Linked DNA regions of Homo sapiens. The protein of the gene in region 4 interacts with the protein of the main gene of each other region in a pairwise test. Each region holds a gene or a part of one and is shown on either strand. Other genes may lie near its edges. The genes, in order: TMED8, TMEM182, SMAGP and SUSD3.

Region 1 (7,724 bases), on a different chromosome or scaffold from region 4:
GACAGAGGGAGACCCTGTCTCAAAAAAAAAAAAAAAAAAAAGCTTCTGTGGAATCTTTATCATAAATACTAAATAGATCTACCACAAGAAAAGTAAGAGCAAAATAGTCCAATGACTTCAGGCTCCTCAATGAAGAGGATTTTAGAGAACACATGAACATTCACTCTAACACTTCGTTTTCTGAATCGGTGCCTACTGGGTGCCAGTACAATGATGGGCCCTGTGGAAGATACAAATAATCATTCTCCAAAAAATAATGAAGACCAAGATGCCCTAAATTAGAGGGCAAAGAGAGAATTCCGGGAGCCACCCTCGCAGTGCTTTCTAATTCCAACCCAACCACTATGTGTCCACATTCTGGTGCCTCCTTTCATAAGAAAGAGCCAGAATCTGCCCCCTACCTCATTGAGGACCTGGGCCTGGTCTGCAGGCAGCAAATCCTGTTTCACCAAGGCCTGAGCCTCCAAAGGACCAGTTGCTTTCCGCAGATCTTCCGTGGCATCCTTACTCACTGGAGATACCATCTGTGGCCTCTCAGAGGAAGAGAGCATGTTAATTCAAGGACTCTTTGAAAAGACTCAATCATCCTGGAGAAACTTTGAAATAAAACAACATTCGAGATACCCCCTGCCCCACCTGCCCCTGGCATTTATTTAGCTCTACTGTCACCTTAGCCGACCACTGCCCAGGGCTGAATTGGTCCACAGTAAAGTGTTGACAGTGTGAAAACAAAGACTAACAAGGCCAGGTCAAAGGCTAGGAGAACCATGGAAAACACACAGCTCCATCATCTGAGATGGACTGCTGGTCTGGTTTTTTTTTTTTTTTTTTTTTTTTGTCATTGTTGTTTCTTTTATTTATTTATTTTAGTTGACAAAGTGTATATATTTATGGTGTACAATGTGCTGTTTTGATATATGTACACATTGTAAAATGATTAAATTGAGCTAATTAACATATCCATCCCCTCACATACTCCTTTTTGTGGTGAGAACATTTAAAATCTACTGTCTTAGCAATTTTCAAGTATACATTGTTATTAACTATTGTCACCATGTTGTACAAAGATCTCCAGAACTTGTTCCTCCTTCTAACACCTTATACCACTTGACCAACATCTCCCCATCCCACCCCCTGGCCCCAACACCTATTAACCACCATCCTGCCCTCGGCTTCTGTGAGTTCCAATGTTATTCCTCACTCTGCGGCCCACAGGGCCCACAGAATTTTAACCGAGGAATTGGTAGAATCTCAGTTCAGTTCTACACACAAAGCCACTGGCTAGAAGCAAAAGGAGGAGGTCTGCCTAAGGGAGACTGGGCACCAAAACAAAGTACAAAATGATGATCAAGGCAACCCTCTCTGCAGTTATCCCTGAGGCAGTCTTTCAGCAGATCCGTTTCATACCCTGTCCCCGTTCAGTGCTAGGGGTCATCACTTTCTCTCCTTTTTAAAGCACATTAATCAACAATCCCAATGGCTTCAAACACAGCTATGTGAATAGTTGTTTGTTTTTTGGCAGAGTGCACCAGTGATGCATCTCACCACAACCTCAAGCAATTCTCCTGCCTCAGCCTCCCGAGTAGCTGGGATCACAGGCATGTGCCACGACACCCGGCTAATTTTGTATTTTTAGTAGAGACAGTGTTTCTCCATGTTGTTGGTCAGGCTGGTCTTGAACTCCCGACCTCAGGTGATCTGCCTGCCTCGGCCTCCCAAAGTACTAGGATTACAGGCGTGAGCCACCGTGCTCAGCCATGAATAGTTGATTATAAAGATGCAAGGGAATGATTTATGCTCTCTTCCATTTCCCCTGGCCTCACAAAAACTAGAAAATTAGTGCCACGGTTGTAGCAAAATAACCCAGGCCTTTTGGGAATCTGTTGCTGATAAAAGGTGACATGGATTTTTTTGAATGGCAGTTATCCAAGTATGGTCTAGGGGCCCTTCGGGGGAGTCTATGAAGTTCAAACTGTTTCATAATAACACTAAAATGTTATTTCCCTTTTTTCATTCTCATTTTCTCAAGAGTGTGCAGTGGAATTTTCCAGAGACTATATGACATGTGATACCGCAATAGAATGAACTCAGAAGCAGAGCTGAGAATCCAACTGCCTTTTATTAAGCCAAACATTAAAGAGATTTATGTCTCTCTTTGTACTACATTCTTTGCTTTGAAAATTAGTTGTTTTTAAGTAAAAACATGTTTTATATATAGCATGTCATGAGTTATTATTTTTAAATGAACAAATAACCATATTCTAATTTTTCAGTTTTAATTTCTTTTTTTTTTTGAGACGGAGTCTCACTCTGTCGCCCAGGCTGGAGTGCAGTGGCGCGATCTCAGCTCACTCAAGCTCCGCCTCCCGGGTTCACTCCGTTCTCCTGCCTCACCCTCCCGAGTAGCTGGGACTACAGGCGCCGGCCACCACACCCAGCTAATTTTTTTGTATTTTTAGTAGAGACGTGGTTTCACCATGTTAGCCAGGATGGTCTCGATCTCCTGACCTCGTGATCCACCCACCTTGGCCTCCCAAAGTGCTGGGATTACAGGCATGAGCCACCGCGCCCGGCTGTTTTAATTTCTAATATAGTAAATATTGATAGATATAACCCACACAAACAAAAATTCTTTGGGTCCTTAATAATTTTTAAGAGTATAAAGGTCTGAGAATCCCTGCTTGAGGGCATCATTTCCTCAAAGAGGTTGAGTAAATGACTGGAAAATGGTAGTATACACCTCATGGGGGAAACGGAGGCTTCATTTTAGAGTTTATTAGTTTGTTTCTTTTCTTTTTTAACATAAACAAGAAGAATCACTCCTTCAGATAAAACAGAGCCATCTTTTGGAATATCCAAAATTACTCCAACCTACCTCAGGACAGACAAGAGGAGGTCACTCCAAGAATCAGAGCTGTGGGATTCTGTTGATCTTTATAGGTTCACTTGGGTAATTCAGTGTAAGCTGTAAACTGGCCTAGGCTGTGGGTCTATTTTAATGCTCTTCAACCCAGAAATTATAGTCCATTTCTGTTTCTTGACACTGTGTATCATCTGCCTCCTCTACTAGAAAGTAAGCTTGGTGGCAGGCACTGGGTCTCACTGCCTCTGTATGCACAGCACTGGGAACCAAGCCTGCCACCTGGAACTCTAAGGCCCTTTTTTTTTTTTTTTTTTTTTGGAGACAGAGTCTTGCTCTGTCGCCCAAGCTGGGGTGTAGTGGCATGATCTCGGATCTCGGCTCACTGCAACTCTGCCTCCCTGGTTCAAGCAATTCTCTTGCCTCAGCCTCCTGAGTAGCTGGGACTACAGGTGTGCACCACCATGCCTGGCTAATTTTTTGTATTTTTAATAGAGACGGGGTTTCACCATGTTGGCCAGGGTGGTCTCAAACTTCTGACCTCAGATGATCCACCCGCCTCTGCCTCCCAAAGTGCTGGGATTACAGGCGTGAGCCACCTCGCCCAGCCCTAAGGCCCTTTGCACTCTGACCTCACCTCTCAGAATCCTCACTCTGCCCTGGTCCCTCCAGCCACAACAGCCTCTTCAATCCTTGATAGTCCTCAAACACCCCAAGTACTCTCCCACTTGAGAGCTTTTGCATTTGCTGTAATCTCTGCCTAGAATACTCTTCTAGGACATTAACTCTTCTTTAGTTAACTGAAGACTTCCTTCCTGCAGGTTTTCTGCTGAGAGGTTTCTCAGAGGTCTGTATATAAAATGTGTGCCCCTTCCTGGCCTTGTCACTGTTTCTGCCCTTACCCAGCTTCATTTTTCTTCACTGCACCTATTACTGCCTGACATGATATGGAGCATATTTTGTTGATTGCAAGATGCACACTGGCTTTTAGATTTTAACACAACTGAAAGATAGGATGTCTTAAAAATTGATGATATCTTAAAAGTGCCGTGGGCCTGGATTGACATCAACTCTTTCCACGAGAGATTTGCATTTGCTTCTGCCAGTACTTAGGAATGCTACCAATCTGAGACTTCTTGAAATTAAGTTCTCTGTTTAGGGTTTTGTTTAATCCTCCTGGCAGAGTGAATTTAGACAAGACACTGGCTAATACCAACTGGTGGTTCCTATTCTCAGGGGAGATATTTTTTCCTCCTATGACACAGTGTCAAGTTTGAGACAATCAAGCTTCCTTGCTGTCCTTTTCTGTGTGGGGGATTTTTGTCTTTATATTTTCACTGAAGGTGCAGGTTTTTGGTATCCCAGTTGCATATGGGGGGTCTATTAGATGATCCATCTTAAGCATTTCTTCCTCTCTTGGTGGGACGTGAAAGCACAACTTACAGTTGACGGCAACTTAAGAGTCTGTGAAGTATGATGTGTAATTGTTTTCTGTCCACTTCCCCCACTAGAACATAAGCTCCCTGAGAGCAGTGATGGACTATTTTGTTCATTTGTGGTTTCTTTAGTACCTAGAACAGTATCAGGTACATGGTAGGCTCCCAACAAACATCTGTTGAATAAATATTAGCCCCAAAATATTTGTTGAATAAAAAATGAATAAGTTAATTTTTGCCTGGGAATAAAAGAGAAATTCTGGATCAGACTATCATTTATAATATTGGAAAGGTGAGACTACAACAGGCTATCTGAATCATTAGCTTGACTTACTGTGTGTGACATCTAAAATTGTCTCTTTGTCTTTGTGCATGCTACTCTGAAAAAACATGGTTCTGCTTATTTAAAAAACATATTTTAAGGCTCGGTGTGGTGGCTCATGCCTGTGGTCCTAGCTACTCACAAGGCTGAGATGGGAGGGTTGCATGGTCCAGGAGCTTGAGGCTGCAGTGAGTTATGACTGCCTACCGTGCTCCAGCCTGGGCAACAAAGCAAGACTCTGTCTCAAGAAATAATTAAATAATAAAATTATGTTAAACAGGATATGTGCCACCCACATAAATTTAATATTCACAATTAGCATTTTATGCTCTGGAGAATTAGAAAAGGGCATTTGGGGAAAGATTAATTTCAAATTATTTGATGCTGGTGATAAGCCACATAAAGGAAAAGCCTCCGCTTTAAGCTTCTGGTTTGTACTGACCTGGAGCAGGGAGGCCATCTCAAAGGAAGGGGAGAGCCTGGCCGGCAAGCCAGCCTCACTAGAAAAGATAGAAAGTTGTGCCGTTTCCATTTCCAATAGACACATAAGCATAAGAAGTAAGCCTCAGGCATCACATTCACTGGATTTTTATCTTCACTCAGCAAATGTTAGAAACAAAAGTTAAAAATTAAATCCCTGGCCCGGCGCGGTGGCTCACGCCTGTAATCCCAGCACTTTGGGAGGCCGAGGTGGGCGGATCACAAGGTCAGGAGTTCGAGACCAGCCTGTCCAATATGATGAAACCCCGTCTCTACTAAAAAATACAAAAATTAGCCAGGCGTGGTGGTGCGCGCCTGTAGTCCCAGCTACTACAGGCGTGTAGTCTGGCCACCACGCCCCGCTAATTTTTTTTTTTTTTTTTTTTTTTGGATTTTTAGTAGAGACGGGGTTTCACTGTGCTAGCCAGGATGGTCTCGATCTCCTGACCTCGTGATCCACCCGCCTTGGCCTCCCAAAGTGCTGGGATTACAGGCGTGAGCCACTGCGCCCGGCCCACATTCTTTACTTTAACTTGCCTCCCCGCTTAAAGTCACTACCTATTTCTTTCACCAGTTCCTCATCTCAGAAGATAAAACCTGTGAAAGCATTCTATCCAAAGTGGTTACCTGTGGGGTGAGGAGCAGGGTTCTGGATCGGTGGCAGAAGCCAATAAAGAGGTATCCTTGTTTTCTAGATCTTCATTCTCTAGAAAACCATAGAAAGAAAGAATTCAATATCTGAGAGGGAATACAATCATAATTATCTTGTACCTTTAAAAAAATCTAGCAATTTCAACCAAATTCTTCCCAAAAATATTCTGGTATGAACTTTATACTCTCAGAGGCCCAACACATAAATTATTCAAGTCATCACATCCAAGTATTCTCAGACAGTCATATCTCATTCATAAAAAATAAATCATTTCTAAAACAAGGCTCCAAAAATTAATCCTAATTTAAGAATCATATTTCTGCCAGGTGAAGTGGCTCACACCTATAATCCCAACACTTTGGGAGGCCAAGGCAGGAGGATTGCTTGAGACCAGGAGTTCAAAACCAGCCTGGGCAACAGAGCAAGACCCTGTCTCTAAAAAAAATTAAGGCCAGATGCAGTGGTTCATGCCTGTAATCCCAGCACTTTGGGAGGCTGAGGTGAGTCAGGAGTTCAAGACCAGCCTGATCAACACAGTGAAACCCCATCTCTACTAAAAATACAAAATTAGCCAGGCATGATGGTGCACACCTGTAATCCTAGCTACTTGGTAGGCTGAGGCAGAAGAATCACTTGAACCCGGGAGGCGGAGGTTGCAGTGAGCAGAGATCACACCATTGCACTCCAGCCTGGGCAACAACAGCAAAACTCCGTCTCAAAAATAATAATAATAAATTTTAAAAATTAAAAAAAAAATAGGGCCAGGCACGGTGGCTCACACTTGTAATCCCAGCACTTTGGGAGGCCGAGGTGGGCGGATCACTTGAGGTCAGGAGTTCGAGACCAGCCTGGCCAACATGGCGAAACCATGTCTCTACTAAAAATATAAAAATTAGCCGGGCATGGTGGCACGCAGCTGTAATCCCAGCTACTCAGGAGGCTGAGGCAGGAGAGTCACTTGAACCCAGGAGGTGGAGGTTGCAGTGAGCTGAGATCACACCACTGCACTCCAGCCTGGGCGACAGAGCGAGACTCCAACTCAATTAAAAAAAATTAATAAAAAGAAAGAAATCATATTCCTCAGAAAGCAGATGGTTAAATTAGGCAGAACATAGAGGGCAGAGTGGGATGTAAGATAAACTGAATTTAGCATCAAAGTATAAAGTGTCACTTCTACATTCAATAAGCTCAGATCAATGTACCCAAGGTCAGGTAAAGGACTTTTGTATTTTCATTTATTTATTCAATCACTCATTTACCAATGATTTACTGAATAACTAGGTGCCCTCAAGGAGTATATAGGTGAAATGCATAATGAAGGCCATGTTCTCAAGCTCAAAAGAAGCCTATGTATGGCTGGTCTTATCACAGCCATTTTTGCAGTAAGGAACTTAAGGCATAGAGACAGGATTCAAACCCAGGCAGTTGTGCCCTTAACCATCAGATGCTACTTAGTTTTGTGGGTTATTCATTTAGCCTTTCCTTGAACACCCAGATAGCATATGGTTTAGTGCATTTAGACAGCCCCTCATTAAACTCCCTCTGTGTAAGACAACAAGACACTGAAGACTGAAGTTTACTTCTCAATACAAAATGCAACTTAAGTAAACTTCAAACATTGAAAGTTTCAGAGTTTGGTAGCAAACTCAAAGTGAAAATGACAGGCAAAATTTTTAATCCAAGCTTAATTTAGTCTCATGTTTTATATGTGAACAAGATCTATTTTTCTTTTCTTTTCTTTGTTTTTTTTTTTTTTTTGGAGGGGGACAGGGTCTCCCTCTATCACCCAGGCTGGAGTGCAGTGACACAATTATGACTCTCGGCCTCTTGGCAACCTCAACCTTCCAGGTTCAAGCGATCCTCTCACCTCAGCCTCCTGAGTAGCTGGGACCACAGGCACACCCCACCATGCCAGACTGATTTTTTTCTTTTTTTTTTTGTAGAGATGGGGGTCTCACTATGTTGCCCAGGAAG
Region 2 (7,724 bases), on a different chromosome or scaffold from region 4:
AAAACAAACCTCGTCTGTTCATGAGGCCTCCCTGGTCACCCTACTCAGTGTGGAAGTCCCCTCCATACACACACACCCCTCTCATCTTTTACTTTCTTCCAAGTGCTTGACTGACTTATTGTTTATTTTTAGCCTCCCCGCTATAATGAAAGCCCCACGAGGGCAAGAATTTAGGGCTGATTCTGAAGCATCCAGAACAGTGCTCAGTATACAGCAGGCACTCAATAATTGCTTTTCCCTGGTTCTAGTTGATGCTCTCTCCTAAGAAAAGGTCCAAAGTTTCAGGCAGAAGCCATAATGCTTCAAGATAAGAGAGGCCCAGACAGCTCCTTTCTCCTTCGGGGTTTGAATACCCTGCATGAAAGAAGGCAGTGGAAGGAAGCTATTCTTGTGTGTGTTTGGGCCCAGACCTGGAGCTGAGCACACAGTGTAAGCAGTATGAGTATAATTTCAAAGAAGATCCTGGGCCTGGGTTAGAAGTTTTGGGACTAAATGTCTAGATGGCCTCAGTGATTTTCATTAGAGGGTGATTTTGTGCCCACCCACACCCAGGACACCTGGCAATGTCTGGAGGCATTTTTAGTTATCATAACTGGGATCTACTGGGTAGAGGCAAAGGGGTGCCACTAAACATCCCACAATACACAGGACAGTCCCACAACAAAGAATTATCTGGCCCACAATGTCCACAGTGTGAAGGTTGAGAAATCCTGCTGTACACATCAGGAGTTCCTAGCGTGAGAGGAGATTTCTGCTTCTAAGTGTGGAAGGCATTTTCAGGGATCTCCTGAAGCCTCCATGGAGGTGGAAGCCTGTCCTTTGCAAAGGGAACCCAGGCCATGCTGCTGGGATAATCACAGGTCTTGTTTTCAGAAAGCGATTGCCTCTCATCGTTGCAGGGATATTACATAAACTGCCAACCAATTCTCAGAAGCCCACAAATAAATTGTACAGAACACAAAATGGCACTCTCTGAAAAAAGGTGATTTTTAAGTACGGCCTTGATGTTGTGCCCTAGAACTTTCAAGCCAACTCTACCCTCAAGAGCTGGAGTGTGTGGAAGCCCAGTGAGCCACTCTGGGAGTGGCCCCAAGCCTGCATGCAATGGAGCCTGGGCTGGGGTCCCAGATGAAAGTCAGCTGTTATTCAGGAACTGCAGCCACTCCTGTAACGTGATACTGTGTCTGTGGTGATGGCTGTGTGATCCCAAATGTCTGAACGAATACCAGCAAATTAAGTTGATGTTAGGCATTTCCAAATATCTAAGTACTTGACATTTATGGGAAAAGGAGGCTAAGTTGCATTTTCCATTACATTTTGTGGTGCATAGTTTTTTCTAGCTAACTAAAACACAGTGGAAGTATTTGGAGTGATTTGCTGTATTTAGGACAATGTCCAGAATCCCCATACATGAACACCCAAAAAACTGATAAATAAGACCCAGCTACCACAGAGTAATCGATCTGCAAGCCAGAGGTGGGGGTATCTCAATGAGATTAGATACCTACAACAGGTTGATGTGCCTCCTAAATTATTTAAGAATTTACATTTTTATAAACTCTAGACTCAAATCTTAATTCTTCCTGTGCTGTTTCAAACTGCCAAATGTAAGGACATTCATGTTTGTAGTTTATTTTGCCTTGCATGGTAAAGCAAGTTGTTGTGTGTGGATGTGGCTGTTTTTATAAGGACTCTGTACCCTCTGCCATGCTGTGCTCTGTTGGTGGCTATTCCAAGCCGCAGTGTTGGCTGATTGAAAAGGTCTCTACTTCCTCACTGCTCACTCCCCAAGCATCCGTGTGCGGTTTCACATTCCCATCATTCTGATACAACCCCTTTGTGAGATCACTGCTGTCTAACCTCTCTTCCTGTGAGAAGAGAAGAAAGGAGGAAGCCTGAGGTAGGGTTTGGCTCTCAGGAGGATCCTCAGGTGACAAAATGTGCAGGAAAATGGAATGGGATCCCTGAGGGAGGAAGTGCATTGCAGGGTAAAGAGGACAGAGTCCTCAGGTCCTGTCTAAGAGAATGAGCAGTGAACCGGGATGGGATACACAGCAGATGATCTGGAAGTGTCAGGTGGATTTAGGATAGAAGTAGGTGCCTGGAACAAGGAGACTTTAATGGGTGTCTGTAGCTGAGCCCTTGGTGAAGACGGAGCTACTGGGCCCCAAGAACTTTTGCATCATTGGCTTATGATCCAATTCCTTCCTGCCTGCTTCTCATGTCCATTCATTCTGCGTTTGACATTGAAGACCACTGCCTCCTTCCCAAGAAAATGCACCAGACTGCTCGCTGACTTGTTTCTTAATGCTTCTTTCTCTCCCTCATTTGTGGGCTGTCTTTCTTCTTCCCTTCTTCCCCTAAGAATAATTGGTATTTTACTGTCTTCTTTCCTATGATTGTTTTCCTTAAAGATTATATTTGAAATCAAAAATCACCTCTGCAATTTCTCATCAGTATCAATGATTATAATTAATGACTTTCAGGAAAACCAGTTTTGCATATCAAGCTACTTGCTGAATGATTATTACAAACTGGTATTCCACCATCAACTCAAGTTTAATACGTCCAAACCAAAGTAAATCACCATGCTCTACTTCAAAACATGCCCCCTCCTCTTAACTCTCAGATTTCTGTCCATCTTACCAACTTTTCTTAGTCAAAAGTAATTCACAGTTTAGTACCAGTTGGCAAGCAATTTTATAGTATGGCACAATAACAACACCAAAGAAAACTTATTCCTATATTTTGAGTCACTATTCATACTTCTGAAAATATAGCCCAAAGAGTAAATACAAATTATTAAAAAATGCTACATACATAGAATTATTTTTGATGCAGAGGTAGCAACCAACATGTTTAAAATTTGAGAAATCACTAAGTAAATACATGGGGAAATGTGTGCTAACATAAAAACAGAAAAGCAAGATAGACATGTATAGTTATGATGATTAAAACAGAATATAATATGCATATAAAAGGATTAAAAACCCACTAAAATAATACTTATTGTTTGAAGGTATGTGTCCACATTACTTTTTACTGTATGTTATTTAAACTGAATTACACCTATTTGAAAAGGAAACTTCTTCATCATCCTTGATCCCTCCAGCTCTTTTTTGTTTGGCTACCAATTTTACATGTTAACTCCTCACATATCAATTATATTCTTTATTTCCTTTTCATTTTTACTGTCCCACCTTTGTTCAACCCCTGATGATACTGATTCACTGAATGATTTTGATTTTCATTCACTCCCAGGCTTTCTCCATTTCCCTTCTGTGTTGCTAGACAGCCCAAAACAACATGTCCCAAGCAGAGGGATATGTGGCATTGTTCTGATGAATAAAACATTGGCAGAAACTGACTGTTAAATTCTGGAAGCACTTCCTCTTTTCTGAGGATGAAAGAGCATGAAGGTGACTGTCCACCCCCAAGGATGGTAGAAGAAACAGTTGACAGAGCCTGGGTTCCTGGCAGCATCATTGTGGAAGCTGCTTCTGACCCTCTTGTTCCAGGAGAAAAATAACCTTTTTGTTTTCTGTTACTTGCAGCCTAATGCATTGCCAACTAACATCTTGCCTCGCTGCCTCCCTGCTTGTAGCCTCACATCATTCACTTCAGCTTACACTTCTATAAGGGTGAAAGAAGAAAAGACCAGAAAATAGTACTAGATAAATAAACATTGACAATAAAAGCAAAACACAGCTGGCAGGCGAAAACAATGTGGAAGACCAAAAATTACAAAAAGCACGCAAAAAAATAAATTTTTTTTGAGATGGAGTCTTGCTCTGTTGCCCAGGCTGGAGTGCAGTGGCATGATCTCAGCTCATCGCAACCTCCGCCTCCCAGGTTCAAGCAATTCTCATGCCTCAGCCTCCTGAGTAGTTGGGATTGCAGATGTGCACCACCCCTCCTGGCTAATTTTTTTGTGTGTGTTTTTTTTTTTTTTAGTACAGATAGGATTTCACCATGTTGGCCAGGCTGGTCTCTAACTGACCTCAAGTGATCTGCCCGCCTCAGCCTTCCAAAGTGTTGGGATTACAACACTTTGGCTACCATGCCTGGCCAAACAAATTTTTTAAAGAGTTGTGTAGGTCCATTTAGTAAAGAGCTAAAGAAATTCTGCACATCAATAGTGACTTAGGGCATCAGTATTAATACCACAGTACAGTGTAATAATGAAGTCTCCCCAAAATATGCATTCAGCTTTTGGTCTACAGTGGATAAAATAGTGAGTCAAACATACAAGACTCCCACTCTCATGGAGCTTAGAATTGAACTAGAAAAAAAGTATATGAACAAGATAATTACATGAGTAAATAATTTAAAACTGTGCTATGAATTATCAAATTAAAGACTGGGTTTTATAAAGGAGAGCATGGCCCAGTGCATGTACCAGTGGCGTAGGGGCAGGTAAGGAAGTCTTCCTTGGGAAACTGAAGTTTGAACTAGCTGGAGATAAACCCGCTCTGTTAGAAAAATGAACAGAGGAGGAGGAAGGAAGAGAGGAACAGCATTTGGGGAAGTTTAGGGCAGGTCCTGGGGCAAGGGGACAGATACTGAGATGGAGGACCTTAAAGAAGGTCAGATGGCTCACCCCCATAAGTATATATTTGTTCCCACTCATCAAGAAAAGATGAAATTGTGTTCATTGCATTCTGCTTCAGAAGAAACTAAAAGTATGCAATTGAGTTTCTAAACATTTCCACTTGGAAAAATAAAATCAAACTAGTTTATTGCAGAAAATAGTAACTGTAATTTTGCATAAAGTCATTCTAGACATATTTTTAAGCATCTAGTAATTACCAGGAACTATGCTTTGGAGAGCTCAAATAAATAATGAAGGAACTGAAGTAAACAAACAATTCCAGTTAAGCATAACGAGCACTCTGATAGAGGGGTCATCAAAGGCTATGGGGACACTGAGAAGGCAAAAAATTAATTCTCTCAGGGTTGAATTGTCTTGAAAATTCATTTATGTTCAGTACATCGTTGCCAAATGATACCAAACAAGTGAACTGTGACTGAATGTAAACATGAAACAAACCAGAAAATCTAGACTCTGACAACTCTCCAAAGGTAATAGAATTGTTTAATGCACTTAGAAGTACACAAGCCTACCTCAAAAGCAATTCTGTGAATTAGACCACCCTCACCAGGCCTGGCCAGTCATTCAAATAACTAGATTTGAGGATAATTGAATTTCAGAATATGTATTTGAGATTCTTTTAAAAGAAAGAAAACACTGAATTAGACCTGATCATACACACAAGTCAGAATTGAATATAAAGGTAGAAAGAGCCAATGTAAGTTTAATTTGTTCTTTTGTTAAGATACAAATTAAAGACATATTTTTAATAGTATGCACTACAATTAGCCTTTTCATTCATTGTAGTTTAGTAGATTATCGATGAAACAAAAGCCAGAGACTTGGTTCTTTGCACTGGCTCTGCCAATAAGCAGCTGTATGAAGACAGAGTCACATGATTTCTCTGATTCCCAGTCTCCTTATTATAAAAGGATAATTTCATCGGTAGTGTCCTATAATTCTAAAATTGTTACTCCAGAAAAATCATACACCACTATATTATTTTCACTGAATTCAATATTGGCTAACTGCAATTGTAAAAACTCAGGACACTATAAAGCCATTTCACCAACAATTTGCCAGGCCACAATACATCAGAATTTATAAATGATACTTTCAATTTACCAAAGGTGACCTGGCAAGTATCTGATGTTGGGTAATTGTGAAGCTACATGAAACTTAATAGTAGCTCTAAAGCATAGTGAAGTATACATAGTCTCATTAACTAGGAAACCATACTGAAAAGTCAGGTACAAAGCTTCCAATGAAATCTATACCTTTCTCTTGGATACAGGAAAGAAACAAAAAAACCCCAAATTTAACAAAGATAATATCAAATTTCCTTGTATATTATTATGGAGATGAGTGAAACTTGTGTATAGTATTTCTGTTGTAGAACACATCTTTGCACATCTCAATCATTTCTACCTAAAGTGATTGACAAAGTTTCTGAAAGTAAATGAGTTCCAATACGTGTGCCAATGAGGAATTTGATAATTTAAAAAAATTGGATTTGGTTTTGTCACTAGATCAAAAAAGTGACACACTAATTAAATGCAGTGCTACATAATAATTTTAAGTGTAACTGCAGTATAATTTTTCTGACATGTATTTACAATCCATCTCCATCATAATTATCATGCACAGATTATGTTACTTTGTTTTTCAAGTTCTCCACTATCTCCTTGAAGTGCAGGCTTTTCAAATATGGGATCATTTTTAAATATACAGTGCCTACAATACCTATCTTATCACAGGACCTCATTATATGAATAACAACAATACTAGTATTTATGCTAATACCTAATGTTCTGGAAAGCCAACCTTGTATTACTTTTCAGTTCATTTTATAAAAGTAAGAATGTTGGGGAAGGAGCATCATTTTCTAGCTTGTCTGTAAAACAAAAGAGTTTCTCCTATTCTTTCCTATGCCATCCATCTCTTCCCTTACTAGTGACAGGTAGGCTTGTATACTTCTAAGTCCATTAGACATGACACAAAGGTTTTGACAAATGTGAGTGAGGTGCCTTCTGCAGTTTTTAATGGGAAGGAGCATCCATACCACACATGTTTTCAAGGAAAATGGTCCCAGTCCTTCGAACCCAAGGAATCCTGGTGGACAAGCACAGCTGTGGGTCAGCTCACCTCTTTCCCTATCCAGACCTCATACCCTCTTTATAAGTGTCCTATTAATGATGTAATACAAGCAAATGTTACATTCTTTGACAAAACTAAAAATTATAATGTATGGAATTACATATTTAACAGGAAGATGAAAAATAGTTCCATGTAAAGATGTGTTGAGTTCTGTGATGGTTATTGTTATATATCCACTAGGTTGGATTATGGTGCCAAGTTGTTGGGTCAAATACCAGCTTAATATTGCTGTGAAGGTATTTTTAGATGCAATTAGCTTTTATAATCCCTTGACTTTGAGTAGAGCAGATTACCCCCTACCCCATACTATGAGCGGGCCTCATCCAATCAGTTGAAGATTTAAAGAGAAAAAACAGGTGTCCTGAGGAAAAAGAAAGTCAGCTTCCAGATTGCAGAAGAAAAATTCTACTGGAGTGTCCAGCCTTCAGACTGGAGATTGCAACATCAGCTCTGACCTGAATCTCCAGCCTGCCAATTGCCCTGTAGATTTCAGACTCACCAGGCCTTACAATCACTCTCTCTCACTCTCTATGTGTGTATGTGTATGTGCACATGCATATGTATATACATGTATGTGTGTATATAATATATATTTATGTGTTCTATTGTTTCTCTTTTTTCTGGAGAACCCTGACTAATATTAATTTATTGAGAACATTAAATATAATAGCTACTATTTTTGAAAAACACTTTTTTGTTCTATATATGACATTGATAGTCTGTATCAACCCTTAGCAAGTTATTACAAATTTCATGTTCTTAATGTGATTTTAAGTTAATGATATCTGTCTGTCTGTCTCCTATGGGATATTACACACACAGAGTTCAGTCATTTTGTATAAATATAGTAGCATAATTACATATTTATATCATATATATTTATTGTATACATATTATATATTTATCTGTGATATTCTCATGTGTAATGATGACATAAAGTTTTAGAAGTATGATGTATATTACAATATTCTCAACT
Region 3 (8,066 bases), on a different chromosome or scaffold from region 4:
TTCTGGAGGTCCTCTGCCCACCCGCTTCCTGAACATCCTCCAGGGTAAATCGTCTCTGTAGCTTCACACATGGTATGAGGTATTCTACCTTTATCTAGAGCAGGTACACACGAAAAAGGTATTCTACGTTTCTCTAAGATACCTGCTGCGCCCCTTTGCCTGTATGAACCTTGTCCGTCTTTCAAGGGCAAGACTCAGATCCCCTTCCTCACCCACCCATGAAGCCTTTGCTGACCTATTCCCCCCCCCCACTCCGTGTCCCCCTAACTCTTTTTTTTTTTTTTTAAGACAGGGTCTTGCTCTGTCACCTAGGCCGGAGTGCAGTGGCATGATCTCGGCTCATTGCAACCTCCATCTCCTGGGCTCAAGGGATCCTCCCACCTAAGCCTTTGGAGTAGCTGGAACCACAGGTGTCTACCACCAAGCCCGGCTAATTTTTAAATTTTTTTGTAGAGATGGGGTTTCGCCATGTTGCCCAGGCTGATCTCGAACTCCTGAGCTCAGTCTGCCTGCCTCAACCTCCCAGAGTGCTGGAATTACAGGCGTGAGCCACCATACCTGGCCATTTCTCTCTTTTATCTCTTCTCACCAGACAACTAAAAGTCTGAATTGTGTGCATTACCAGTCACAGAGGACACTGTCTTAGACTTCCACTGGTGGTGTCACTCACCTGTTTCCACATCAGTAAAAGCAGAGAATGCCTGTCCTAATGACAAATGTGACTGTGTATAGGAAGACAAAGGTGTATAGACCAACCAAGGGTTTGTTCCTCTCTCTCCCTAACTAGCACATGCTGAAAACAGTCAATAAATAACTGATAGTTTGTCCGGCCCAGCCTGATGATGAACTAAAAGGTGGGCATCCATTCTCAGAGTGCTGAGCAGTAGTGCCCGGCCTCCGCACACCTTCAGGGAACAATGGGGTTTTGATGCTGGGTCTGTATCACCAGAGGAGTGGAATGAGAAAGCCAGCAAAATCACTTTCAAGGGAAAGATGGGTTTCTAACAAGTACTCAGTGCTAATAACCAACGTGACTGAGTGCTTACGAGATACTACACACTCTTCTAGGTGTTTTATATGGGTTGTCTCATTTAATCTTCATAAATCATAAGATAGGTACTATTTTCCCTATTTTGTGAATGATGAAACCGGAGCTTAGAGGTTAGCAATACTATCTTTAGCAGGTTTTTAAAAAATGATTTCCCTGTTATCTTTGAAGATTCCTTTTCCACATTTAATTACAAGGGTTTCTGCTACATTCTTTGCCATAGCTATAAATTATTAGACAGATGAATGTAAAGCCCTTCCTTTAGGCTTATACAATAATCTTCCTTCCTTCCTTCCTTCCTTCCTTTCCTTTCCTCCCTCCCTTCCTATTTTTTGAGACCGGTCTCACTTTGTTGCCCAGGCTGGAGTGCAATGGCACGATCTCGGCTCACCTGTGCTTCCCAGGTTCAAGCGATTCCCATGCCTCAGCCTCCTGAGTAGTTGGGATTACAGGCGTGCACCACCACGCCTGGCTAATTTTTTTGTATTTTTAGTAGAGATGGAGTTTCACCATGTTGGCCAGGCTGGTCTCAAACTCCTGACCTCAGATGATCCGCCCACCTCGACCTCCCAAACTGCTGGCATTACAAGCATGAGCCACCACGCCCGGCCTCTTTCTTTCTTTTGAATTAGCAATGGGGTCTCACTATGTTCCCCAGGCAGGTCTCAAACACCTAGCCTCAAGAGATCCTCCTGTCTCAGTCTCCCAAAGTCCTGGGATTACCGACATAAAATTATTTGATAAACCGAGGTTACAAAGATTTGTGAAGTCACCATGTCCATGTGACTTCAGATTAAAACCGTACTAAGGGGCACACTCTAGTTCCTGCTTCCTCCCAGGCCCTTCCTGTGTGAGGCAGGCAGAGAGAGGTGGGAGTCTTCCCACCTGGGCTGAGGCTTCCAGGACTGGTCTGGGGAAGGGGATGTTGAACAATTCTTTCTCACTGGGATTAGGAAAGGCCTTCACCTACCTCTTGGAGAAGGAGTAGTCAGGAGGCTGGTCATTGTCACTAGTGGTTGAGTTTCTTGGAGAAGAGGCAGATCTGTAGGAAGAGGGGCAAAGACAGGAATGTAGCGGGTGGGCCCCTATGGCTTTGAGTCCTGGAAGTCCCAGGAAAGCCTCTGGTGCCAGGTTCTCCCAAGTCCCTTCCCCTTTTTCTCTTGTCCTCTTCTGGTTTCCCTGAATATCTCCTCAGGCTCCAGGTACCAACAGCTCTCCACAGGAGCAGGTCTGAGGCCGCATGCAGTTTGACGGGGTGTTACCTTCATACGCTCTCTCCAGGTCCTTTCAATGGGCCACCAAATTTACTTAGATCTCTCAAGGCCTGAGAAAGTCAGGCAAAGGTTCGCAAATCAGCAGCGAACCCAGTTTCGCCAAAGCGCGGTAACAGGTACCCTAGGGTTCCACAGCTAGGAGTTCTGGTGACGCCATCCACCAGGTGTCAGGAGAGGGCCGGGAAGGTCAGGACCCGCGCCCAGGCTCCAGAGCGGAGTGGGCGCAGCGCAGTAGCCGGGCCGGGACCGGGAGGCGACGGCCGTGGGCCGCCTTCTGGCTCGCCTCGGACGCTGGGACGCCGGACTGGCCGCCCCCTCCGGGCCTGCTTTCGCCGTCCAGGGCGCGGTCCGCGCACAGCCTGCCAAGCCTCACTGGGCCCCAGCCCGCGCCCCGCGCCCCGGAGATCCTCGACGCCCCTGCGAACGCGGGGTGGACGCGACGGGCTGGGTTGGTCCTCGCCCCGCGGCCCCGCCCCCGTCCCCGCCCCCGCCCCGAGCCCCCCGCGTTACCAGCACCCCGCGGAGCGCGCTGCGCTGGGGGCGGCCGGTGCGTCGGGGAGCGGCGTTCCCAGCCGCCGCGACCCTCTGCCCCAGCGGAGCGCTGAGCTTCGGCCGCTCCGGGTTTCGGTTCCTGCCACGGCCGAGGTGGCTGCGGCGAATGTGGGCGACCCGGCTCTCCGGCGCCCCCGCCCTTCCCTCGTGCTCACCTTTCCAGTCGGACGGGCTGCTGGTGAAGGGCCGGCGCCGCTCCGCGCGTCCTTTTGAACTCAACGGGGGCGGGCACCGCGGAGTCGCGGAGGCCAGCAGAGGCCGAACGAGGACCCCGAGCGGAGGAAGCCGCGGGTGGCGCGCGGGGTTGGCGCAGAGGCCGGAGGGGGTGGGGGGCAGGCCGACGGGGTGGGACAGGAAAAGCGGAGAGAAACCGCCCTCTGCAGGTCCCCTTGGCTCCCCCGGGAGGAAAGGCAGCCTGCCCTTCTCCGATTGTCACTTTACTCTCCATCCGGAGCCGCTTCCTTTCTCGCCGCGAGGCTCGGGGTTGGGGGGGGACCAGATTGGAGCCGCGGGCTAACTGGGATCCGTCCCATTTCCCTGGGCTTGACGTTCTCTGAATTTTTAGCTAATGTGGAAAGTTACATTTATTTGCATTTGTTTATCGCTTGCTCACATAGGTCTGTGTCCTGAAGCTTGGCAGATGAGCGAACTTAGCCAGCACACCCCCGGCCGTGAAGCAGGGAGGTGAAGCGGGGAGAGCAACGAGCCCCACCCGGGTCTTGCCAGCTGGACGTTCTTGTGGGGCAGCGTTGAGCAGCGGTTAGGAGTGCCGTGGACTTTGGATTCAAACAGCCCCAGCTCTTCTGCTTGCTAGCTGGGTGACTTTGGGCAAATTAACATCTCGAAAATCTGTTTCCTCATTCCTAAAATGCGGGTCTGAAAGTGATCATGCCTGTAAAGCCATCTCATATCCATGGTTCTAGAAGCATGGTGAGCACCTCAATTTGAATAATCAGTGCCATGCTTTAGCTACCTCTTGACTCACTCGTTTGTGGCAGGAAATGTTCCCAAATTAATCAGAAGAATTCAGTGACTAAGAGGATGTAATAGTATATAGCGCAGGCACTGGAATCAGCTCTGCTGTGTGATCTTGGACAAGCTGCTTCTGTTCCGTTTCTCTTATCTGGGGCAATACCTGTCTGAATAGAGTGACTGTTGGGACGAAATAGGTTAGTAAATATGTACTGTAAGGCATTAGAACCTTGCCTGGCACATAGTAAGTGCTCAATAAACGCTAGGTCTTGTTACCTTGGCTTCCCGTTTAGGATTGGAACCCTTGTGATTATTCTTTCCCTCCCAGTGATAGACTTCTGTGCTTACTTCGCACTCCTAGGCGTTCTGTAGGTTTGTAAACCAGTATTTATACAGAAATACTTTCTGTAGAAAGACAGGCATCATCAGATTGTGCATGTTAATCCGGGAACAGACCGAAAGGGAAGGTCTCAGAGGAGAGAGGCATAAAGGGAGAAAACAAAACAAAGTCACAAGCAAAGCAAGAGTAGTTGCTTTTATTCCTAAAGTGTTCATTATAAAAGAAACCAGAGGGCAGGGCACTGTGGCTCCCAGCACTTTGGGAGGCGGGTGGATCACTTGAGGTCAGTAGTTTGAGACCAGTCTGGCCAACAAGGTGAAACCCTGTCTCTACTAAAAATACAAAATCCGCTGGGCGTGGTGGCACACACCTGTAATCCCTGCTACTCTGGAGGCTGAGGCACGAGAATTGCTTGAACCTGGGAGGCAGAGGTTGCAGTGAGGCGAGATCACACCATTGCACTCCAGCCTGGGCAACAACAGCAAAACTCCGTCTCAAAAGAAAAAAACAAACACAAATACAGGAGGAAAACAAACAATAAAAAAGTGATGAAATTCATTTTATATAAATATATTGTGAGAAATATATGTAAATATGTGCATGGGAAAATGCCAATCCAACCAAGAAAGGCAAAGAAAGTGATATGCCAGCTATGCATATGTAACTTAATAAAAGAAAGGTGAGCCTGGCTTGTCCTTAGATAAGAGAATATCCAAGAGAAAAGGAAATTAAAATCCTAGAGGGCTAAATCCAAAGGAGGACAATTGCTGGCATTGACATACTTCTAGCTGTCCACCTTGATCATGAATTCCAGGAGAAGTTCAGATCGTTCTTGGACCTGGGTCTGTCTCTTTCACATTTTCTATTATGTGTTGAAGATTGTTTAGAACTATAGACTCAGCCAGGCGCGGTGGCTCACACTTGTAATCCCAGCACTTTGGGAGGCCGAGGCGGGTGGATCACAAGGTCAGGAGTTCAAGACCAGCCTGGCCAACACAGTGAAACCCTGTCTCTACTAAAAATATAAAAATTAGCTGGACGTGGTGGCAGGCGCCTGTAATCCGAGCTAATGGGGAGGCTGAGGCAGGAGAATCGCTTGAACCCGGGAGGCGGAGGTTGCAGTGAGCCGAGATTGTGCCACTGCACTCCAGCCTGGGCGACAAAAAAAAAAGAAAAAAAGAACTACAGACTCAGAGGCTATCTGGCTCAACTGACTGACTCTACTGATTTGCTGTCACTTTCACAATTTCGACAGTTGTTAGTAATGTTCTTTCAATAAGCATCTTTTTTTTCTCTTTAAAATGTAACTGGTGGGGCGCAGTGGCTCACGCCTGTAATCTCAGCACTTTGGGAGGCCAAGGCAGGCAGATCACCTGAGGTCAGGAGTTCGAGATCAGCCTGGCCAACATGGCGAAACCACGTCTCTACTAAAAATACAAAAATTAGCTGAGTGTGGTGGCGGGAGCCTGTAATCCCAGCTACTTCGGAGTCTGAGGCAGGAGAACCTTTTTGCACCCTGGAGGTGGAGGTTGCAGTGAGCCGAGATTGCACCAACGCACTCCAGCCTGGGCAACAGAGTGAGACTCTGACTCAAAAAAAAAAAAAAACAAGTAACCTTACACCTATAATCCCAGCACTTTGGGAGGCCACAGTGGGCAGATCACTTAAGCCTAGGAGTTTGAGACCAGCCTGGGCAACATGTTGAAACACTGTCTCTACAAAATACAAAAAAAGTTAGACAGGAGTCGTGGCATGCACCTGTGGTCCCAGCTAGTCAGGAGGCTGAGGTGGGAGGATCACTTGAGCCCTGGGGGTGAAGGCTGCACTCCAGCCTGGGAGATATAGCAAGATCCTTTCCCCTCAACCAAAAAAAAGTAACCTTAGGGAGGGAGGTGGGGATGATTAATGGGTACAAAAAAAAAAAAAAAAAGAATAAGACCTTAAGACCTACTATTTGGTAGCACAACAGGGTGACTATAAATAATAACTTAATTGTACATTTAAAAATAACTAAAATAGTGTAATTGGATTGTTTTTAACACAAAAGATAAATGCTTAAGGGGATGGATACTCCATTCTCCATGATATGATTTTATTATGCATTGCATGCTTATATCAAAACATCTCATGAGGCCGGGCATGGTGGCTCACACCTGTAATCCCAGCACTTTGGCAGGCGGATCACAAAGTCAGGAGATCAAGACCATCCTGGCTAACATGGTGAAACCCCGTCTCTACTAAAAATACAAAAAATTAGGCAGGCGTGGTGGCAGGCACCTGTAGTCCCAGCTACTGGGGAGGCTGAGGCAGGAGAATGGCATGAACCCGGGAGGCAGAGCTTGCAGTGAGCTGAGACTGTGCCACTGCACTCCAGCCTGGGCAACAGAGCAAGACTCTGTCTCAAAAAAAAAAAAACAAAAAAACTCATGTACCCCATAAATATATATACCTCCTATGAACCCACAAAAATTAAACATTAAAAAAATAAAAATAGGCCAGGCACAGTGGCTCACGCCTGTAATCCCAGCACTTTGGGAGGCCGAGGCGGGCAGATCACAAGGTTGAGAGATCGAGACCATCCTGGCCAACATGGTGAAACCCCAACTCTAATAAAAATACAAAAATTAGTCGAGCATGGTGGCGCATGCCTGTTATCCCAGCTGCTCAAGACGCTGAGGCAGGAGAATCGCTTAAACCTGGGAGGCGGAGGTTTCAGTGAGCAGAGATCACACCACTGCACTCCAGTCTGGCAACAGGGTGAGACTCCATCTCAAAAAAAAATAATAATAAAAATGAATAAAATGTAACCTTAGAAGGTTTGCTGATACTTGATTTTTTTTTTTTTTTTTGGAGACAAGAGTCTTGCTCTATCACCCAGGCTGGAGTGCAATGGCGTGATATCGGCTCACTGCAACCTCCGCCTCCCGGGTTCAAGCAATTCTTCTGCCTCAGCCTCCCAAATAGCTGGGATTACAGGCGTCTGCCATCAGGCCCGGATAATTTTTTGTATTTTTAGTAGAGACAGAGTTTCGCCATGTTGGCCAGGCTGGTCTCGAACTCCTGACCTCAGGTGATCCACCCGGCTCAGCCTCCCAAAGCGCTGGGATTACAGGCATGAGCCACCACGCCTGGCCTGATACATTATTTATTAATTTTTTTATGTAGTCACATACCTCATTTTATTTTTTGAGGTGGAGTCTCACTCTGTCGTCCAGGTTGGAGTGCAGTGGCTCCATCTCAGCTCACTGCAACCTCTGCCTCCCAGGTTCAAGTGATTCTCATGCCTTAGCCTCTGGAGTAGCTGGGATTACAGGTCCACACCACCAGGCCTGGCTAACTTTTGTATTTTTAGTAGAGACAGGGTTTCACCATGTTGGCCAGGCTGGTCTCAAACTCCTGACCTTGAGTGATCCACCTGCCTCGGCCTCCCAAAGTGCTGGGATTATAGGCATGAGCCACTGCTCCCAGCCAACATACCTCATTTTAAAAGTGTAGTCATACAGAAAAATAGATCCAATATGCACATGCTCAGCACCCAGTTTGGTGTAAAATAAATACTATTGTAAGCAGTGTGCGTATTGTGTTCTCTGGTGTGTGTGCTGTTTATCTGGATATGTCATGTCTCGAGCTCTCTGCATGTCTTACCTAGTCTGTCAGTATGTCCTTCAAACTGCTGGAGGGCAGGGACTGGAGGATGTTCTTGCAATTAATTCTATGTAGAGAGGCATACAGACAGATGATGAATGAAGGCTTGTGGTGGTAAACTACCAGTGTTCTCCAAGGATTAAATGCTAAACCTCAGAAACTGCAGAGGCTGTCCTTTTGTCAATAGACCTCAAGGGGCCTTAGGGGAGGGGACAAGAGACATTCATCTCCACCC
Region 4 (7,724 bases):
AGCCTCTCACGGCCCTGTCAGGGTGCCTCCCTCCCGCCCTGGCTCTCTCACTCCCCAGAGGGGGTGAACACAGCCCTGTACACAGATCTGTGGCCACTCTTGGACGGGACGCACACGTCCGACCACACACTGCACAAGTTCCCGCAGTGTAAGAGGCAGGGTCTGTGGCGCTGGGACCAGGCAGAAGTGTGGCCCCAAACAGCACCCCTGGGAGCCCCTCGGCATCATGCTCTGGCCAGCAAAGCCCCTGCGGCAGCGGCAGCAGCTGTGGCTGCCATCATCCTGGACACCATGTTGCCTTGAGAGGCAATTGTTCCTTCCCCCATTCCATGGGCACTTTCCCAGTTATGACACAGGATGATCTGGTCCCAGTGCTGTAATGGGGAGTGGGGATCACAGGTGGGGCAATGGAGGAGCTCTGAAAGTGGCTTTGGATATCTCACTACCCAAAAGGAAAGGCATTAGCCACCATGGCCCCAACAAAACTAAAATAAAAAGGAAAGGGGGTCAGGCACGGTGGCTCACGCCTGTAATCCCAGCACTTTGGGAGGCCGAGGTGGGCAGATCACGAGGTGAGGAGATCGAGACCATCCTGGCTAACACAGTGAAACCCTGTCTCTACTAAAAATACAAAAAATTAGCTGGGCATGGTGGCGGACACCTGTGGTCCCAGCTACTTGGGAGGCTGAGGCAGGAGAATGGTGTGAACCCGGGAGGCGGAGCTTGCAGTGAGCCGAGATCGCGCCACTGAACTCCAGCCTGGACGACAGAGCAAGACTCCGCCTCAAAAAAAAAAAAAAAAAAAAAAAAAGGAAAGAGGCCTAAAAAATGTACAGCCAATTGATGGGTCAGGTGCCCTCCCACAACACATGGAGCAAAACATTTGGAGGTAATTCAGCAGAGAAAACAGAAAATGACTCATGCCAGCAATGGCACTGGTGAGCCAAGGCTGGAGAAAACATTCTTCCTCGACATTCATCAAAGAAATGCTGACGGAAACTACCCACACAACTTGTAGCTACTGTAAGAAACAAATGATAAACAAATGGTCAGCACTCAGTGATGATGCAGTTACCAGAAAAATATGGCCACATTCACTTGTACCAGAGCTCCCAGGGAAAGAATGTGGTCATAAAATATTCAGACTGTTGGGCCTAAACAATCGATTCCTAGGATCAGCCCCAAGAGTTGTGGTCTTGAAAAAGAAAAACAGCACTAAGCAAAAAGACACTGACCACGCCTGACCACTCAACAGGGGAGGGTCTAGCAGATATTGGAAGCTTTGGAATAATGGGCTGCTGTAAGGAATGATAGCCTGGAGGCCTCAGACCACCATGGTGACCTGGAACGTGTTGCTAAGTGCAGAAGTATCAATGGCAGCATTTCGGCTACATCCTTGTTGATGTAATACACACTTGAAGCGTCAGGAAAGGAGACAGAAAGGTGAATTCCTTCCCTGCAGGTGTTGGCCAGACCCAGCACGGTGTGTGTAACCCAGGGCCACAGAGACCACCATCTCCTGTGCCTCAGTTTCCCCATCTGCATAAGGTCGTAAGAGTGGCAACGACAGTAACAGCCAGTATTCAATGAGCTCTCACCCTGGGCCTGGCGAGAGAGGCACACACCCGGACTCAGGTAACCTCAACAACTTGAAAGGGTGAGCGCTACTGCAATCCTCACTTTACAGGTGAGGAAACCGAGGCATGGAGCTGTTAGTCATACAGTGAGGCCATGAGGGCTGGGACCAAGTGCACTGCAGCCTCGAAAGACTCCAGCAGGAGGGCCTGAAGGAAGGGAACACAAGCTCAATGATGTCGTCTGGATGCCCGCCCAGACCCCGGTGTCTAAGCGCTGTTCTCCACCCACAGAAACAGGGCTCCCAGAGCAGTGGCCAACCGCAGAGATGGGCACAGAAAGCATGAGATGGGCCTGGAACATCTTGTGCAAGGCAGGAAGCACTCACAGACTGATGGGGATGGATCAGAAGGACACAGGCCATGGCTTGGCAGAGCTCCTACTGCCAAGAACTGGAGCCCACAAAAAGTGTGCTTGAAAATAATGTGGGGGAAGGGGCATGAATGAGGTTGCCTGGCTTAGCTGGTGACCATGAGAATGGGAGGCAGGGACAGGAGATCTGTGACAATATTCTACTTTTGTGTATTTGTGAACTTTTCCCAAAATAAAAGTTTCAGAAAAGAATATTCATGAGTTCATGTGATGCTAAAACAACAAAACAAAATCAAAAGAAAGGAAAGAAAAAAACAGCTCATCCTCATCCCTGATAGAAGGAATGTCAGAAGTGCAACAGAATTAACAAAGTCACCATTCTGTAATGCCCAAGGCAAGAGCGGATCTGGCAGGATCAGCCTTGCACGCTGAGACCACAAGTCAGAGGCCGCTGAGACAGTGGAGGGACACTTGCAGAGCCCCTTCCTCAGGCTCTGACAGTGGAGGGACCTGGGGGGCTTCGCCTCAGCCAAGAGACCCCATTCCATGTGGCCCGTGGGGGCAGCCTGGCCCATGTCTGTGATCTGCACATGTAGCCCTGCACCAGAAATGCAGAGCCGGGCCTGGTCACACAGAAACACCAGACAGACGCAGACAGGAGCCTCTGCATGCGACCACTGGCCTGGAACCCTCAGAAGACTATGCCATGAAAAACTGAAGGCCCATACCAGTTTAAGGAGCCCAGAGACCTGGTGGCTGAGTGCTGCGTGTGATTATGGACATTCTCCACTCAACAGGCCACGTGCAATCAATATTAGATTTCTGTTAGTTTTGTTTTTTTTTTTTTTTTTTTTTTGAGACGGAGTCTCGCTCTGTCGCCCAGGCTGGAGTGCGGTGGCACAACCTTGGCTCACTACAAGCTCCGCCTCCTGGGTTCAAGTGATTCTCCTGTCTCTGCCTCCCAAGTAGCTGGGATTAAAGGCACACTCCGCCACACCCAGGTAATGTTTGTGTTTTTAGTAGAGACGGGATTTCACCATGTTGGCCTCGAACTCCTGACCTCAGGTGATCCTCCCACCTCAGCCTCCCAAACTGCTGGGATTACAGGTGTGAGCCACCAAGCCTGGCCAATCAGTATTAAATTTCTGGACTCAGAAAAAGAATGTCCTTATATTGGTTCAGGGCAAAAAAATGTATGTGTGTATTAAGAGAGAGAGAAAGGAGAGGGACAGAGCACGGGAGGGAGAGCAAGTGACTGCAGCTCAGTGCAGAGCCCTGCTGGGTGTAGGTGGAGGGAACACAGGTGTGTAGAAGCTTCAGCTTCCCTGGAGGGTGGACCCTCCAGATGAAAACACTGCTGGGGGCAGTTCTGAGTCCTAGAATGTCAGAGTCAGGACAGAGTGCTACAAGGACCACCAGCCTCTTGTTTTAGAGATGGGAGTTAAGGTTCTGGGTGGGCTAGGCGTGTGGGAGCAGCAGGCTCTCAGCGTGTGGGAGCAGCAGGTGGCCCGGGGCCTGACCAAGCTGGACCCCTTGTCCCCCAGCATGTCCCCTACCCAGACCCGGGCTCACGTGGTGAAGCTGTGGTTGTCGTGCGCCTGGCTGGGCCCGCTCACGGGTTTGTTGAAGTGCTTGAGGCCAAGGTATGCGGCCTGCACCGTCTCCAAGTCCTCATCTTTCAGCTGGGACCACAGCTGGGCTGACCTGGAGGAGAGTTTGGGAGGAAGGACTCTGAGCATGCAGGTGTATCCCTGACGGTGGTGGAAACAGGCTCCATGTAGGCCCAGGGCACCGTCTGCAGGACCAGTGCAGGCTGGCAAACCTCTCAAAGAGCTGGGCAGTGGATGTTTTTGGTGTGGTGAGACACATGATTTCTCCCACAGCTAAACTCTGCAATTGCAGCCCAAAAGTAGCCACACACCAGTAGACAATGAACATGGCTGTGTTCCAATAAAACTTTACTTACAAATACAGGTGGTGGAAAGTTCTAGGGCTGGACAGTGCTAATGGCTGCACTACATCGTGAACATACTTAATGCTACTGAACTGTAGACGTTAAAAAGGTTAAGTTTTGGCCAGGCGCAGTGGCTCATGCCTGTAATCCCAGCACTTTGGGAGGCCGTGGCAGGTGGATCATGAGGTCAGGAGCTCGAGACCATCCTGGCTAACACGGTGAAACCCCGTCTGTACTAAAAATACAAAAAAAAATTAGCTGAGCATGGTGGCGGGCGCTTGTAGTCCCAGCTACTCGGGAGGCTGAGGCAGGAGAATGGCGTGATCCCAGGAGGTGGAGCTTGCAGTGAGCTGAGATGGAGCCACTGCACTCCAGCCTGGGCGACAGAGTGAGACTCCGTCTCAAAAAAAAAAAGGTTAAGTTTTATGTATTGATATTTTACCACAATAAAAAATAAAAACAAAAAATAATAATAAATTACCATGGGGAAAAAACCTGACAGACAGCCGGACTTCGCTGGTGGGCTGTGGTTAACCAGCCCTCCATCTGCAGTGACAGTGACTCCCTCTCAAGGTTTAGGGGGCGTGTGTGGCAGCCCTGCAGGCCGTTAACACAGCAGAGTACATACTGCATATGTGTGCAGGTTTAAGAATAAAACGGGCCGGGCGCGGTGGCTCACGCCTGTAATCCCAGCACTTTGGGAGGCAGATCACTGGGCGGATCACCAGAGGTCAGGAGTTTGAGACCAGCCTGGCCAATATGGTGAAACCCCATCTCCACTAAAAATACAAAAAATTAGCCGAGTGTGGTGGTACATACCTATAATCCCAGCTTCTAGGAAGGCTGAGGCAGGAGAATTGCTTTAACCCAGGAGGCGGAGGTTGCAGTGAGCTGAGATCACGCTACTGTACTCTGTCGCCTGGGTGACAGAGCAAGACTCCGTCTCAAAAAAAATAAATAAATAAAATAATCCCCCGTGAACCCATAGCCTGGCCTAAGAGCAGGGCCTTGGGGGCCCACATGTCCCCCAGCTGTGATGCTGCCCCTGGCTGCTGCGTGGGCCGGGAGCAGCACTTGGGGGGGAGACGCAGGCCCAGAGCAGCAGTGGTAGGAACGGGTGCCCTGAGGGCAGTGCCGGGGTTCCCTTGAAACACTCTGTCCTTTCCTCCTCCCATGGTGCCAAGAGGCGCCTCCCGGGAGGACCCTGAGATCATGAGGCCACCGTACCTGTTGGAGCGCCGCCGCTTGCTCTTCTTCACGCACTTGAGGAGGCAGCAGGTGAGGAAGGCCATGGACATGAGCAGGATGATGGCACAGCTCACAATGGAGGCGATCACGGCCACCTTGAAGCCAAAGGTCTCGTGTGGTGGCACCACTGTGTGGGAGACAACCACCAGCTCCTGGGCGAGGTTTGCCCAGATTTGCTTGGCCCAGGGGTTGGGGGTCTCAGGGGTGGTACGGGTAGGGCCTGGGTGTAGACAGGGCCTGGGCAGCCCTCAGTGAGCCCTGTTTGCATGGTAAGGGGGCAGTGAGGTGCTGGGGGCTGAGGCAAAGATCTGTGCAAACTATATTTGGAGGTGGGACTATCAGAGAAGACTCTCCCCAAGAAGCAGGTTATTTGAGCAGGGTGTGTAGGAGTATGCAGAGTGGCTATTTAAAGGGGGTATTTAAGCAGGGTTTTCCAGGGTGTGTAGGAGTGTGCAGAGTGGCTAACTGAAGAGGGTATTTGAGCAGGGTTTTGTAGGGTATGTAGAAGTCTGCAGAGTGGTCAATTACAGAAGTTCTGGCAGGGAGTTCAGAGTGATGGCCTCCTTGGCTCCTACCCACTGAAGTCCTGCCTGAGGAATGAAGGAAGGGTGGGCCACAGAGAGGAGGTGACAATAGACAGTACTGAGGAGGCCTTGCCCAGCCCATGGTCTGGGTTTTCACAATGCCCCAAGGTGGCAACATTCTTCAGGGGGCCTACATGCCTTCTCAGGTCACTTTCCAGGAAGGTCCAAAATACTATGTATCTGCTGTGTGACCTCAGCTATGCTCCAAAAACTAGTTCCATCAGATTCTACTGGATGTTCTGGCTAAAAAAGGCCTCGGAATCCTAATTTGAGCAACACCGTTTACTCCCCCACGTAGAGAACATGGCCCTGTCCCCTGCCCCATTTCCCATGCTCCCTAGTGGATCCTGGCCACCCAAAATGGAGACTACATTTCCCAGTGGTCACAGGACCATGTTCTGGCCAGTGGAAGATAAGAAGTGATGTGGGGCAACTTCTAAGAACCTTCCCTGAGACACTGGGGCCTGCTCTTTGGCCCCAGGGCCCCTCACCCCATAACAGCTGCCTGGAACATAGCTGCTGCCATCTTGAATCATGAGGCTGAGGCCATGCCCAGCAGAGCCATGCCAGGGAAGGGGCCTGGCTCCCACTGCCATGGAGCCTATACAGATCTGCCTGCCCACCCTGAAGGTTGAGCTCCATCATAGTTAATCCTAGTATTTTGGGTTTTCTGCCTTTCAGAATCTAATCCTAACACTCGCATCCTCAGAGAATCACCTAGCACGTGAACATTTTAAAGGCTCTGAGAAGTTCTGCAGCATAAAAACCCAGAATCTGCCAAACTATTTTGACTCTGAGCCCTTTTTATGCACAAAACACATGAACATAACACACATAGCTTCATTTTGGAAATGTCATGCTGGGCACTGAAAAGGGACTATCTTGTGGACCTTTCAACACCTGTACAAGAAATACAACCAGAAAACCATTGCCTCCCACAGACTGGGAGCTCCAGGGCCAGGCACGTTATGACCTTCCGTGTTGCCAGTACTTAAGATTCCTGATACGTGAAATATCCTATTAAAGTTGGCCATGTGCACCTGTACATGAATGAATGAATGAATGAATGAATGAATGAACAAACATAGTTTCCTGCTTAACAGATGAAAACGTGCTGGCTCAGAGAGCATGCACAGCCTCTTGGCGGTGAGGGGCTGAGTCGGTAGCAGAGCCAGGATTGGAGGCCCGCTACTAGGTTTTCGGTCCGTGCTGCCAACATGGCACTGGGAGGGCTGAGGGCCTACAGCCGGCTGCTGACATGTAAGCAAGCTGTCAGTGTTGGGAATGGGACCCTACACACTGGCCTAGCTGCTTGTGAGTAGACACCCACGCCATCCCCACCCACACCATCCCCATGACAGGATTTGGGGCCATCCCCCACCCCCAGAGCCACCGAGCTGAGAGAGGGGTCCTTACGTTTGCACACTGGGGACCCTGAAGACCACTCAGCGATGCTCCCCTTCCAGGTGCAGGTGAGGAGCCCAGACCCCACCATCTGGTGGTTGGAGGGGCAGCGGAACATGAGCACGGTCCCCACGGAAGCACCATTGCCACGAAGGACTTGGAAGGTTGCTTGCGGGGGTAGCCGCAGCTTAGCGCACGTGCCTGGGGAGACAGGCAGGTATGAGGCATGGCGGGGGGGGGGGGGTGGGCACGCAGGGCAGGGCTGGGCAGGACCCTGGAGTGAGGAGCTGGCACAGCATTGGGGAGCACAGGGGTGGGGTGCAGCTCCAAAGGCCATTGGATGCTCTAGAGGTCACATGGGGTCATCCAGACCGGGGGACAACGCAGAGCTGGATCCCTCCATGAAGTACACTCTAGATGTTGAGGATTGGAGCATTAAAAAAAGAAATAAGTGTTAGAAGACAATAAAAGCAAACATACCTTCCCTGAGACACTGAGGCATGGCCTTTGATTATGACCTAAACACGGCTCCAAAGGCAGAAATCAGAACAAAAAAAAAAAAAAAAAAAAAAAGAGGGACAGAGAGA

What was found.
Region 1: the proteins of SUSD3 (region 4) and TMED8 interact in binary tests that used the Homo sapiens proteins (3 or more experiments, as listed by UniProt).
Region 2: the proteins of SUSD3 (region 4) and TMEM182 interact in binary tests that used the Homo sapiens proteins (3 or more experiments, as listed by UniProt).
Region 3: the proteins of SUSD3 (region 4) and SMAGP interact in binary tests that used the Homo sapiens proteins (3 or more experiments, as listed by UniProt).

What each region holds. Positions count from the first base shown.
Region 1 is NC_000014.9:77,345,948-77,353,671, forward strand, and holds part of TMED8 (protein TMED8), read right to left. Parts: intron 5,805-7,724; coding exon 5,726-5,804; intron 534-5,725; exon of another isoform or gene 532-533; coding exon 402-531; intron 1-401.
Region 2 is NC_000002.12:102,764,752-102,772,475, reverse strand, and holds part of TMEM182 (transmembrane protein 182 isoform a precursor), read right to left. Parts: intron 1-7,724. UniProt on the Homo sapiens protein: Negatively regulates myogenesis and skeletal muscle regeneration via its association with ITGB1. Modulates ITGB1 activation by decreasing ITGB1-LAMB1 interaction and inhibiting ITGB1-mediated intracellular signaling during myogenesis.
Region 3 is NC_000012.12:51,267,227-51,275,292, forward strand, and holds the start of SMAGP (small cell adhesion glycoprotein), read right to left. Parts: upstream 3,190-8,066; 5' UTR 3,030-3,189; intron 2,985-3,029; exon of another isoform or gene 2,833-2,984; intron 2,091-2,832; 5' UTR 2,053-2,090; coding exon 2,019-2,052; intron 1-2,018. UniProt on the Homo sapiens protein: May play a role in epithelial cell-cell contacts. May play a role in tumor invasiveness and metastasis formation.
Region 4 is NC_000009.12:93,075,398-93,083,121, reverse strand, and holds part of SUSD3 (sushi domain-containing protein 3), read right to left. Parts: intron 7,687-7,724; exon of another isoform or gene 7,640-7,686; coding exon of another isoform or gene 7,618-7,639; intron 7,339-7,617; coding exon 7,150-7,338; intron 5,277-7,149; coding exon 5,129-5,276; intron 3,652-5,128; coding exon 3,520-3,651; intron 1-3,519. UniProt on the Homo sapiens protein: May play a role in breast tumorigenesis by promoting estrogen-dependent cell proliferation, cell-cell interactions and migration.